Homo sapiens: one gene and its partners. The protein of the gene in region 1 purifies or fractionates together with the protein of each later gene. This does not show direct contact. Each region holds a gene or a part of one and is shown in the gene's direction. Other genes may lie near its edges. The genes, in order: CLEC4M, NFS1 and PLXNA1.

Region 1 (4,270 bases):
CTGTAATCCCAGCTGCTCGGGAGGCTGAGGCAGGAGAATCACTTGACCCTGGGAGGTGGAGGTCGCAGTGAGCCAAGATTGCACCACTGCATTCCAGCCTGGGCAACACAGCGAGACTCCGTCTCCAATAAATAAATAAAAATACAAAAATTAGCCAGATGTGGTGGCGCACACCTGTAGTCACAGCTACTCGGGAGGTTGAGGCAGAAGAATCACTTGAACCCAGGAGGCGGAGGTTGCAGGGAGCCCAGATCAGCCACTGCACTCCAGCCTGGGTGACAGAGCGAGACTCTGTCTCAAAAAAAAAAAAAAAAAAAGAAAGAAAGAAAGAAAGAGAAGAAATTTTGACATATGAATTCATCCATGCAGCCACTTCTCAGAAAAAAATATGGAACATTGTCAGCAGAAAATTTCCTTCTACCCCATTCTGGTCAGTTTACACCCACTCCTTCCAGAAAGCCCCCAATTTGAGTCCCATCAAAGGTTAGTTCTTCTGCCTATTCTTGAAATTCATGTAAACTCAAAATCTTACAGAATGTATTCATTCTGTTTGGGTTTCTTAACTCTTGTGAGATTCATCCAAATTGTTGTTTGTATCAGTACTTTGCTTTTTCATTACTGTATAGAATTCCACCCTCTGAATATGCCATGATATTTGTTTTCATTCACCTGCTGGTGGCCACATGGGTTGTTCCAATTTGGGTTGGGATAGTCTAACTAAAGTTACTATAAATCTTTCTATTTTGCCCTTGATGTTATTAGACCCTCTTTGGTTAACTGGGTGGAGTGTGGAGGAAAACTGCCTGGATTCGAATCTCAGCTCCACCATTTACCAGCTGTGTGACCTTGGGCTAGTTTCTTAATCTCGCAGTGCCTCTATTTTCCCCTATCTGTAAACTGGAGGTCACATGATCTACTGCAGGGTAGGAAAGTTAAATGAAGGAGTTTTATAAAGCTGTTGGAAATGTGCCTATCATAGGTATGAAATAAACAACTATCGTTCATCTCCAACTCCCAAAAACAAAGGAAATTCCCATGAATGAGAGCATCCGCAGACCAAAAGAGCAGATCCTGGAGGTCAGAGGGCATGGTGGTTCCAGGAACTAGGCGGTACTGCCTGCCCACCCCTGCCCTACGTAGGGAGGCATAACAAAGTCGCTTTCCATTAGAATGAATTGAATTTTATTAAAAGCATCCCATCGCTCAACCATGTCATGAGTGGAGGAGTCCTTCTCCCTGTCAACCCCAGACCATCCCCCAACACCTCCCTGAAATTCCTGCAAGGTCAGGCCGATCTCAGGCTCTGACTCCTTTCACTAGCCTTTCTGGTGATGTGATCTTACCCAGCTTCCTGTTTGTCTTCCTGAGAGACAGTAGATTTAGAAAGTGAGGATCAGAGGGTGGAAAATAAAAGCTGTGGTCCCCAGGAGTCCTGAACATCTGGGGACAGCGGGAAAACATGAGTGACTCCAAGGAACCAAGGGTGCAGCAGCTGGGCCTCCTGGGTAAGGCTGGGTTGGAACTCTGGGATCCTGGGTAAGGGGAAGGGATGGCCCAGGCTCTGAGCTGATGTCTGTCAATTCAGAAGAAGATCCAACAACCAGTGGCATCAGACTTTTTCCAAGAGACTTTCAATTCCAGCAGATACATGGCCACAAGAGCTCTACAGGTAGGCAAGAGTTAGGGAGCAGATAGTGGAAGACAGAGCCTCCCAGACCCCTGGGTCCTGGGGAGGTAGGTGTTGGGGTCTGGAATCCTGGGTTCTGGGGAAGGAAGGTCTGAGACCTGGGTTCCTGGGTCCTGAAGAGGACGGGGTAGGGATCTGAACTCCTCACACCTGGGGAGGTGGGGGTTGAGGCTTGGGTTCCTGGGGCCTGGGGAGGTGGGAGAGGGGTTCTGGACTCCTGGGACCTACAGAGGTGGGGGTTGGAAGCTGGACACCTGGGTCCATGGGAGGTAGGGACTGGAGCCTGGACTCCTGGAACCAGAGGAGGTGGGAGAAGGGGCCTGGATTCCTGGGTCCTGGGGCAGGTGAGAACTGGGGACTGGAATCCTGGGTCCTGGGGAGGTGGGAGCTGGGACCAGATTACTGGGTCCTGGGGAAGGTGAGAACTGGGGCCTGAATTCGTGGGTCCTGGGGAGGTAGAAGCAGGTATCTGGGTTCCTAGGACCTGGGGAGGTGGGAGCTTGGGCCTGGGTTCCTCCTGGGACCTGGAGATGTGGAGGCTGGGACCTGGATGCCTGAGTCCTGGTGTTGCAGGATAATTTAGGAATCACAGAGATCAAGGGGTTGAGGAGGATTTATTATTATTATTATTATTTAGGTGCACCAGCCCAGTCAGATTAACATCCAAAAAGACTGAGCCCCAAACAAAGAGTCAAGTTACCTTTTAAGCATTTCATGGGGTAGGGGGAGATCTGTGCAGGGGGAAGCATATTACAGAAGCGAGAAACAAAGATAGTTATTCAATTGAGACATGCATTACGTCATTTCTTATTTTTCAAGGAAAAACATGTTTTACAACTTGAGTTTATCTGCCTAGTGACCTTGCAGCTGCACAGCTAGAGAAACAGGGTCTTCACAATGCCTGGGAAAGGGAGAGATAAGGCTCACTAGCCACACACAGAAAAACAGGCAGTTAATTCTTTTTTATTTTATTTATTTAGTTTTTATTTTTATTTATTTATTTATTTTTTTTGAGACAGAGTCTTGCTCTGTCACCCAGGCTGGAATGCAGTGGCGCCATCTCGGCTCACTGCAAGATCTGCCTCCCAGGTTCATGCCATTCTCTTGCCTCACCCTCCCGAGTAGCTGGGACTACAGGCGCCCACCACCACCACGCCCGGCTAATTTTTTGTATTTTTAGTAGAGATAGGGTTTCACTGTGTTAGCCAGGATGGTCTTGATCTCCTGACCTTGTGATCTGCCTGCCTCAGCCTCCCAAAGTGCTGGGATTACAAGTGTGAGCCACCATGCCTGGCCAAAAAGGCAGTTAATTTTTAAAGGATTCCACCTCTTTCTCTTCCTCAGGGGGAATTGGGTTTTCTTACATACAACTGAGTTTTTGCTTACACATTCTTTAATTTCTTTTCATTCCTGTTCCACTGGGGAGGTGGACGCAGGTACCTGGGTTCCTGGGACCTGGGGAGGTGGGGGTTGGGACCTAAACTCCTGGGACTTGGGGAGGGAGAGGCTGGGGATGGGGTTCCTGGGTCCTGGGGAGGTTAGAGCTAGGGCCTGGATTCCCAGGTGTTGGAGTGGAGGGGGCTGGGGCTGGGGTTCCTGGGTCCTGGGGTGCTGAGGGATTAGGCCAGGCTCTCCCTGGGCCAGGCTCAGGTGGGAACACTGGCAGGCTGACGCATGTATCCTCTCTCAGGGTGTCTTGGCCATGGCGCCCTGGTGCTGCAACTCCTCTCCTTCATGCTCTTGGCTGGGGTCCTGGTGGCCATCCTTGTCCAAGGTCAGGGGCAGGTTCTGAGGGTCTGGGGTCCCCAGGCCTGGCCTTTTGGCTATGAACAGAGCCTGGAGTGGCCAGGTCTGGGAGGGAGGTGGGACTGAGAGCCAAGATGTTGTCCCTGGGGGTCTGTAGGGGCCTCTCCCACAGCCCCTCCCCACTCTAGAGCAGGACAGGAGAGGGAGGAGGAGGAGGGGAAGAACCTGGCTCTCCTTGGCCTTCTGTGCTGCCTTCTCCAGGTGTCAGTTTTCCTCATCTTCAAAGGGGATTAACTGAGACCTTGGCTCTCACAAATGATGTCTCTATGGGGCTCAGTTCAGGGCTTGGCACACAGTAGGTGTTTAATAATTGCAGTTCCTTTTCTTCTTGGCCCAGTGTCCAAGGTCCCCAGCTCCCTAAGTCAGGAACAATCCGAGCAAGACGCAATCTACCAGAACCTGACCCAGCTTAAAGCTGCAGTGGGTGAGCTCTCAGAGAAATCCAAGCTGCAGGAGATCTACCAGGAGCTGACCCAGCTGAAGGCTGCAGTGGGTGAGTTGCCAGAGAAATCCAAGCTGCAGGAGATCTACCAGGAGCTGACCCGGCTGAAGGCTGCAGTGGGTGAGTTGCCAGAGAAATCCAAGCTGCAGGAGATCTACCAGGAGCTGACCCGGCTGAAGGCTGCAGTGGGTGAGTTGCCAGAGAAATCCAAGCTGCAGGAGATCTACCAGGAGCTGACCCGGCTGAAGGCTGCAGTGGGTGAGTTGCCAGAGAAATCCAAGCTGCAGGAGATCTACCAGGAGCTGACGGAGCTGAAGGCTGCAGTGGGTGAGTTG
Region 2 (3,644 bases), on another chromosome or scaffold:
AGCGATTCTCCTGCCTCATCTTCCTGAGTAGCTGGGATTACAGGAGCCTGCTACCACACCCAGCTAATTTTTGTATTTTTAGTAGAGACGGGGTTTCGCCATGTTGACTAGGCTGGTCTCAAACTTCTGACCTCAGGTGATCCACCTGCCTCAGTCTCCCAAAGTGCTGGGATTACAGGTGTGAACCACTGCTCCTGGCCCATTTTTTTTTCTTTTTTCTGTTTTTTGAGACAGAGTCTTGATCTCACCTAGGCTGGAGTGCAGTAGCCAGATCTCAGCTCACTGCAGCCTTGACCTCCTTGGCTCAGGTGATCCTCCTGAGTAGCTGGGACTACAGATGTGTACCACCACGCCAGGCTAATTTTTTTTTTTTTTTTTTTTTTTTTTTTTTTAGTATAGATGATGTTGCTCAGGCTGGTCTTGAACTCCTGAGCTCAAGCGATCCTCCTGCCTTAGTCTCCCAAAGTGGTGGGATTATAGGCATTAGCCACCACCACATCCAGCCCCCTTTTTTTTTTTTAATTAATTAATTTATTTATTTATTTTGAGATGGAGTCTCACCCTGTCGCCCAGGCTAGAGTGTAGGGGCATGATCTCGGCTCACTGCAACCTCTGCCTCCCAGGTTCAAGCGATTCTCCTGCCTCATCCTCCTGAGTAGCCGGGATTACAGGTGCGTGCCACCACACCTCGCTAATTTTTGTATTTTTATTTTTATTTATTTATTTATTTTTTGAGACAGAGTTTTGCTCTTGTTGCCCAGGCTGAAGTGCAATGGCGTGACCTCGGCTCACTGCAGCCTCCAACTCCTGGGTTCAAGCGATTCTCCTGCCTCAGCCTCCAGAGTATCTGGGATTACAGGCATGTACTACCACGCCTGGCTAATTTTTGTATTTTTTTTAGTAGAGACGGAGTTTTTCCATGTTGGTCAGGCTGGTCTTGAACTCCCGACCTTAGGTGACCCTCCCTTCTCGGCCTCCCAAAGTGTTGGAATTACAGGTGTGAGCCACCGCGCCTGGCCATTTTTGTATTTTTAGTAGAGATGGGGTTCCACCATGTTCGTCAGGCTGGTCTCAAACTCCTGACCTCGTGATCCACCTGCCTGAGCCTCCCAAAGTGGAGGGATTACAGGCATGAGCCACTGCACCTGGCGTTCTTTTTTTTTTTTTTTTTTTTTTTTTTTGAGATGCAGTCTCGCTCTGTTGCCCAGGCTGGAGTGCAATAGCACTCTTGGCTCACTGCAACCTCTGCCTCCTGATTTCAAGTGATTCCCCTCCCTCAGCCTCCTGAGTAGTTGGGATTACAGGTGCGTGCCACCGGGCCTGGCTTATTTTTTAATTTTTAGTAGAGATGGGGTTTCCCCATGTTGGCCAGGCTGGTCTCAAACTCCTGACCTTAGATGATCCACCTGCCTCGGCCTCCCAAAGTGCTCGGATTACAGTCGTGAGGCACTGCACCTGGCCGCTTTTTTTTTTTCTTCAATGAGATAAATGTTTTTTTTAGTTTCTTGTAATAGTTGAAATTCCAGGAATTTTTAAATGTACCTTTATTGTTTCTTGTGATATTAACAGTAATACCTACTCATGACTTGTTTACTGTTATATCACTGGCACCTAGAAAATTACTTGGGATACTGGAGGTGCTAAATATTGGTTAAATGAATGAATCATAAATTCCAATAATATAGAGTAGAACTCTAAACACATTTTCACTGCTAATTTGCTGTATATTTCTCCAGATTTTTAAATACCTACATTAATCTGTATACTATTATTATTTTAATAGATTTTATTTTTTATAGCAGTTTTAGGTTCACAGCAAAATTGAAAGGAAGGTATAGAAATTTCCTATATATGCCCTGCCCCCAGGTATGCACAGCCTTCTGCCATTATTAGCATCCTCCATCAAGTGGTACATTTGTTGCAATTGATGACCTGATATTGATACATCATTATCACCCAAAGTCCATAGCTTATATTAGGATTCACTGGTGTTGTACATTCTATGGGTTTGGACAAATGTGATTTATTCTAGTGAATTATTGAACTTGACCGGGCTTCGGGAAGCCCTGAATTTGTATTTGACTGGGCAGAAGTATGGGTAGCTTGAGACCCCTGGGACTTATGTCTGGTATCTGAACTAGGGGCAGTCTTGTACGATTGAGCCCTTAACCCATGGGGTTTTCACTAAGTCTGGAGAGTTAGCCTCAGAATTGAATTATAGGATACTCAGTTGGTATGAGAGAACTGGTGTTGGAGCATACTGTTCTTGCCCACTTTTCCTTTACAAATGAGATTGAAGTCATTGCTGTCTCTCTGAGTATGTTCTCCTTCCATCTGTCACCACCAATTTCTAGGGGGTGGCCCGATTCTACAGGTCACGGAAAAAGCACTTGATCACCACCCAGACAGAACACAAATGTGTCTTGGACTCCTGCCGTTCACTGGAAGCTGAGGGCTTTCAGGTCACCTACCTCCCAGTGCAGAAGAGTGGGATCATTGACCTAAAGGTAGGAGTGGCTATTGGCAGGAGGAGCAAAAATGGAGGAGCCTGGCTTCAGCTTGTAAATTTCTCTCTTGGGCCCTAGCTGGAGCTTGAAGGAATAGATCTAACAGTTAGGATGAAGTTTAGAGAAATAAGCCTGGCAGAGAACGAGATCATGTTCCCCTTGAGTGTGTACTGTCCTCCTTTTCTCTGGAGGACTTGTTTCTTTTTCTTTTTTTTGAGATGGAGTCTCACTCTTTTGCCCAGGCTAGAGTGCAGTGGCTTGATCTCAGCTCTCTGCAACCTCTGGAGGACTTGTTACTTCTTTTTTTTATTTTGAGACAGAGTTTGGCTCTTATAACTCAGGCTGGAATGCAGTGGCGCGATCTCGGCTCACTGCAACCTCCGCCTCCTGGGTTCTAATGATTCTCCTGCCTCACCCTCCCGAGTAGCTGGGATTACAGACGCATGCCACCAGGCCCAGTTAATTTTTTTTTTTTTTTTTTTTGAGGCAGAGTCTCATTCTGTCACCTAGGCAGGAGTGCAGTGGCACTCCACTGCAACCTCCACCTCCCGGGTTCAAGTGATTCTCCTGCCTCAGCCTCCTGAGTAGCTGGGACTACAGGCACGTGCCACCACACCTGGCTAATTTTTTTTTTTTTTTTTTTTAAAACAGAGTCTCGCTGTATTGCCAGGCTGGAGTGCAGTGGCGCGATCTTGGCTCACTGCAACCTCTGCCTCCCGGGTTCAAGCGACTCCCCTGCCTCGGCCTCCCAAGTAGCTGGGATTACAGGCATGCACCACCACGCCTTGCTAGTGTTTTTTTGTATTTTAGTAGAGACGGGGTTTCACCATGTTAGCCAGGATGGTCTCTATCTCCTGACCTCGTGATCCACCCACTTCGGCCTCCCAAAGTGCTGGGATTACAGGCGTGAGCCACCGTGCCCGGCCACACTTGGCTAATTTTTTATATTTTTAGTAGAGATGGGGTTTCACCATATTGGCCAGGCTGGTCTCGAACTCCTGACCTCGTGATCCACCTGCCTCGGCCTCCCAAAGTGCTGGGATTACAGGCATGAGCCGCCATGCCTGGCTCTAATTTTTGTATTTTTAGTAGAGACAGAGTTTCACCATGTTGGTCAGGCTGGTCTTGACCTTTTGA
Region 3 (3,644 bases), on another chromosome or scaffold:
GCCTGGAGGCCGCTTAGCTGGGAAGCCTGACGGTGCCATCACCTAACAGTACTCCTACGAGGGGAACGATGTCAGCGACCTGCCAGTGAACCTGTCAGTCGTGTGGAACGGCAACTTTGTCATTGACAACCCACAGAACATCCAGGGTGAGTGGGCGCCCCGGCGGGGTGGGCAGTGGGCGGGCCCGAGCTGACCGCACCCCTCCCCACAGCGCACCTCTACAAGTGCCCGGCCCTGCGCGAGAGCTGCGGCCTCTGCCTCAAGGCCGACCCGCGCTTCGAGTGCGGATGGTGCGTGGCCGAGCGCCGCTGCTCCCTGCGACACCACTGCGCTGCCGACACACCTGCATCGTGGATGCACGCGCGTCACGGCAGCAGTCGCTGCACCGACCCCAAGATCCTCAAGGTAGGGCCCCCAGCCCTGCCCCCACACCCCATGCCCCGCCCTGCACCACCGCACACCCTACGCCCTGTGGGATGCCTGTACCCCAGCCTCTGCCTCCCTCAGCTGTCCCCCGAGACGGGCCCGAGGCAGGGCGGCACGCGGCTCACTATCACAGGCGAGAACCTGGGCCTGCGATTCGAAGACGTGCGTCTGGGCGTGCGCGTGGGCAAGGTGCTGTGCAGCCCTGTGGAGAGCGAGTACATCAGTGCGGAGCAGTGAGTGCAGCCCTGGGTGTGTGCGGGGCGGGACGGGACGGGGCGGGGCTCCTGCAGCCCCTGAGGCCCGCCTGCCCACAGGATCGTCTGTGAGATCGGGGACGCCAGCTCCGTGCGTGCCCATGACGCCCTGGTGGAGGTGTGTGTGCGGGACTGCTCACCACACTACCGCGCCCTGTCACCCAAGCGCTTCACCTTCGTGGTGAGTCTGCTGCCCTCCCTCTCTCCCTATTCTCTGCTGCTCTGAGAGGGTGCCGCTCAGGGCTTCTGTGCCTCTTCAGGGCCCCTTGTCTGGCCATGCTCTGCCACTGCTTTTCCACGGCCTGGGTGCTGCCCCTCCCCTCCTGTGCCTAGGCCAGCTCCAGGGCTCCCTGGCTCACCTTGGGCTGTGCCTGAGAAACCTGGAAGTACTGGCTCTGAAGTGCAGCTCCCGGGCATGCGGGCTCCTAGTCTGGGGAACTGTCTGTGGGGGTAAGCAGGCCAAGTGGGGCCTGTCCCCATGTGGCCCGAGGGGGACTTTCCTGAGAGTTTCAGCAAGTTCCCTCTTCCTGCAGACACCAACCTTCTACCGTGTGAGCCCCTCCCGTGGGCCTCTGTCAGGGGGCACCTGGATTGGCATCGAGGGAAGCCACCTGAACGCAGGCAGTGATGTGGCTGTGTCGGTCGGTGGCCGGCCCTGCTCCTTCTCCTGGTACGGGGTGCAGGTGGGGGTGGGGGCCTGGCTGCCCCTCCTCCTGTTTCAGATGGTTGCATGCCCCTTCTTGTTGCCTGGGCAACGGGGCTATGGAGAGCCTGGCTGGGGTGATCACTGTGAAACCCAGAGGCGGAGGTTACCATGGAAACAGGCTACCTCCAGAGTGGTAGGACTGGGCGGTGATGGGCGTGGGGCCTGCCTTTGTGGGGCGGGGCAACTTGGCTGCCTCTGCCCTGGTTCTTCCCTGTGGGGAAGGGGGGAATCCCTTGGGTACAAAATAAGAAGTATTTTTTAAAAATTTTTAAGAGAGAAAACAGAAATCTTAACAAAAGCCCTGAGGCTTGAAGTGGATAATTTTAGATTAGGGATGATAATGGAATGTCCCTTTAAATATTTTCCTATGGTAATTACCCGTTATCAGACTAATCATTGGTGTCTGCAGCTGAGGGGGCCTGGTGGCTGTGGGGCTCCTGGCAGTGGTGGAAGAACTGAGGGTCCGGACCCAGGTGTGGGCTATGCCTGGCTGCCTGCCCAGTGGGGTGTCCCCGTGACCCCCACCCAGGCCAGCTCATCTAGTCTCCTCACAGCCCCCTGGGATGCGGGGATAGGGCGAGGTATTCCCACTGGGACAGGTGCCGAGAGGGAAGGTGTCTGCCTGGCCCAGGGTAGTAGGAGTGGGTGCTGGGCTCCCAGCACTCGGAGCCCCGGCTGAGTGAGGCTGGCCCTGAGACAGGCAGGGAAGGTCGCGCCAGGGCTTAGTCTCGCCAGCCCTCCCCAGGGACAGAGGGAGGGCAGCATGAGCCTACCTCCCAGCCTGGCGTGCGTGGGACGGGCCTGCTGCCTACTGCCTCTGGGGAGGCAGAGGCCTGGTGGGTGTGGAGCCCTGGCCAGGGTCACCAGGAGTGGGTGTGGGCGACAGGGAGGCTGTGATGAAAGCAGACCTGGAGAGGCGGCAGGCCGGGTCCCAAATGCCAGGCTGGGCAACAGTGGGGGCCTGAAGGGGCTGGGAGCCAGGGCGAGGGTAGGACAGACATGCACAGCCCTGGGAGGGAAAGTAGCGGTGATAGTATGCAGCCACCCAAGGCAGTACCTGTGACAGATGGCGCTGTTCCCACCGTCCCTCAATGCATCTGCATTCCACCTGCCTGGGTTCCACCCGTGTGCTCCTCACTGTCCCACTCGGGCACCTCCAGGAGGAACTCCCGTGAGATCCGGTGCCTGACACCCCCCGGGCAGAGCCCTGGCAGCGCTCCCATCATCATCAACATCAACCGCGCCCAGCTCACCAACCCTGAGGTGAAGTACAACTACACCGAGGACCCCACCATCCTGAGGATCGACCCCGAGTGGAGCATCAACAGGTGGGGCCCAGCAACACCCATTCCCTATCCCCAGCTATTGAGAGCAGCGCTGAGCCAGGAGCTCTTCCACTGGGCACTTGGCGGTGGCCCTCCTGCATGCCGGGTACTATCCTGCCGGGAAGCACCCCTTGCCAAGAGCTTTTACCTGTTTCCTGTCTTTGGGGAAGGCAGGCTTTGCCTGGCTGAGCTGTGGCCCACGTTTCCAGCTCACTGGGCCCCAGCATCATTTGGTGACCCCCCCACCCCTGTCCTGTTCCAGCGGTGGGACCCTCCTGACGGTCACAGGCACCAACCTGGCCACTGTCCGTGAACCCCGAATCCGGGCCAAGTATGGAGGCATTGAGAGGGAGAACGTGAGTCCCTGCCCTCAGCTGCCCACCTCGGTCCAGGCCTTCACCTGGGATGGGGCTCCTGCTAGGAATACCCGTGTCCCTGCCCCTGCCCCTACCCCTGCCCCTTCCCAGCTTATGCCAACCTTGGCTGTGCCTGGAGACCCCTGGGGAGGCACCTGTCCTGCCTGGCGGGTAGAAGGTCTGGCTCTGGGTTGCTGGCTGCACACACCTCTCCTTCAGGCCACATGTCCCTGGTCCACGTCGGGTGGGTGGCCCAGGACCAGCCCTGCTAGTGCCTGGCATCATCTGTGCAGGGAGCAGGCAGCCCCCAGGCCAGGGGCTCTGTCACTGGGAGCTGCCGGGCCACTCGCGGAGGTCCCGCCCAGCATCCCCACCCTGTGTCTCCAGGGCTGCCTGGTGTACAATGACACCACCATGGTATGCCGCGCCCCGTCTGTGGCCAACCCTGTGCGCAGCCCACCAGAGCTGGGGGAGCGGCCGGATGAGCTGGGCTTCGTCATGGACAACGTGCGCTCCCTGCTTGTGCTCAACTCCACCTCCTTCCTCTACTACCCTGACCCCGTACTGGAGCCACTCA

What was found.
Region 2: the proteins of CLEC4M (region 1) and NFS1 purify together in Homo sapiens (affinity purification with mass spectrometry; one large-scale study listed by BioGRID and IntAct). This does not show direct contact.
Region 3: the proteins of CLEC4M (region 1) and PLXNA1 purify together in Homo sapiens (affinity purification with mass spectrometry; one large-scale study listed by BioGRID and IntAct). This does not show direct contact.

Annotation. Positions count from the first base shown.
Region 1 is NC_000019.10:7,761,808-7,766,077, forward strand, and holds the start of CLEC4M (C-type lectin domain family 4 member M), read left to right. Parts: upstream 1-1,435; 5' UTR 1,436-1,459; coding exon 1,460-1,505; intron 1,506-1,585; coding exon 1,586-1,669; intron 1,670-3,377; coding exon 3,378-3,461; intron 3,462-3,830; coding exon 3,831-4,270.
Region 2 is NC_000020.11:35,689,276-35,692,919, reverse strand, and holds part of NFS1 (cysteine desulfurase isoform a precursor), read left to right. Parts: intron 1-549; exon of another isoform or gene 550-671; intron 672-2,354; coding exon 2,355-2,507; intron 2,508-3,644.
Region 3 is NC_000003.12:127,013,971-127,017,614, forward strand, and holds part of PLXNA1 (plexin-A1 precursor), read left to right. Parts: intron 1-49; coding exon 50-146; intron 147-211; coding exon 212-405; intron 406-507; coding exon 508-659; intron 660-740; coding exon 741-861; intron 862-1,213; coding exon 1,214-1,350; intron 1,351-2,546; coding exon 2,547-2,714; intron 2,715-2,973; coding exon 2,974-3,067; intron 3,068-3,454; coding exon 3,455-3,644. UniProt on the Homo sapiens protein: Coreceptor for SEMA3A, SEMA3C, SEMA3F and SEMA6D. Necessary for signaling by class 3 semaphorins and subsequent remodeling of the cytoskeleton. Plays a role in axon guidance, invasive growth and cell migration.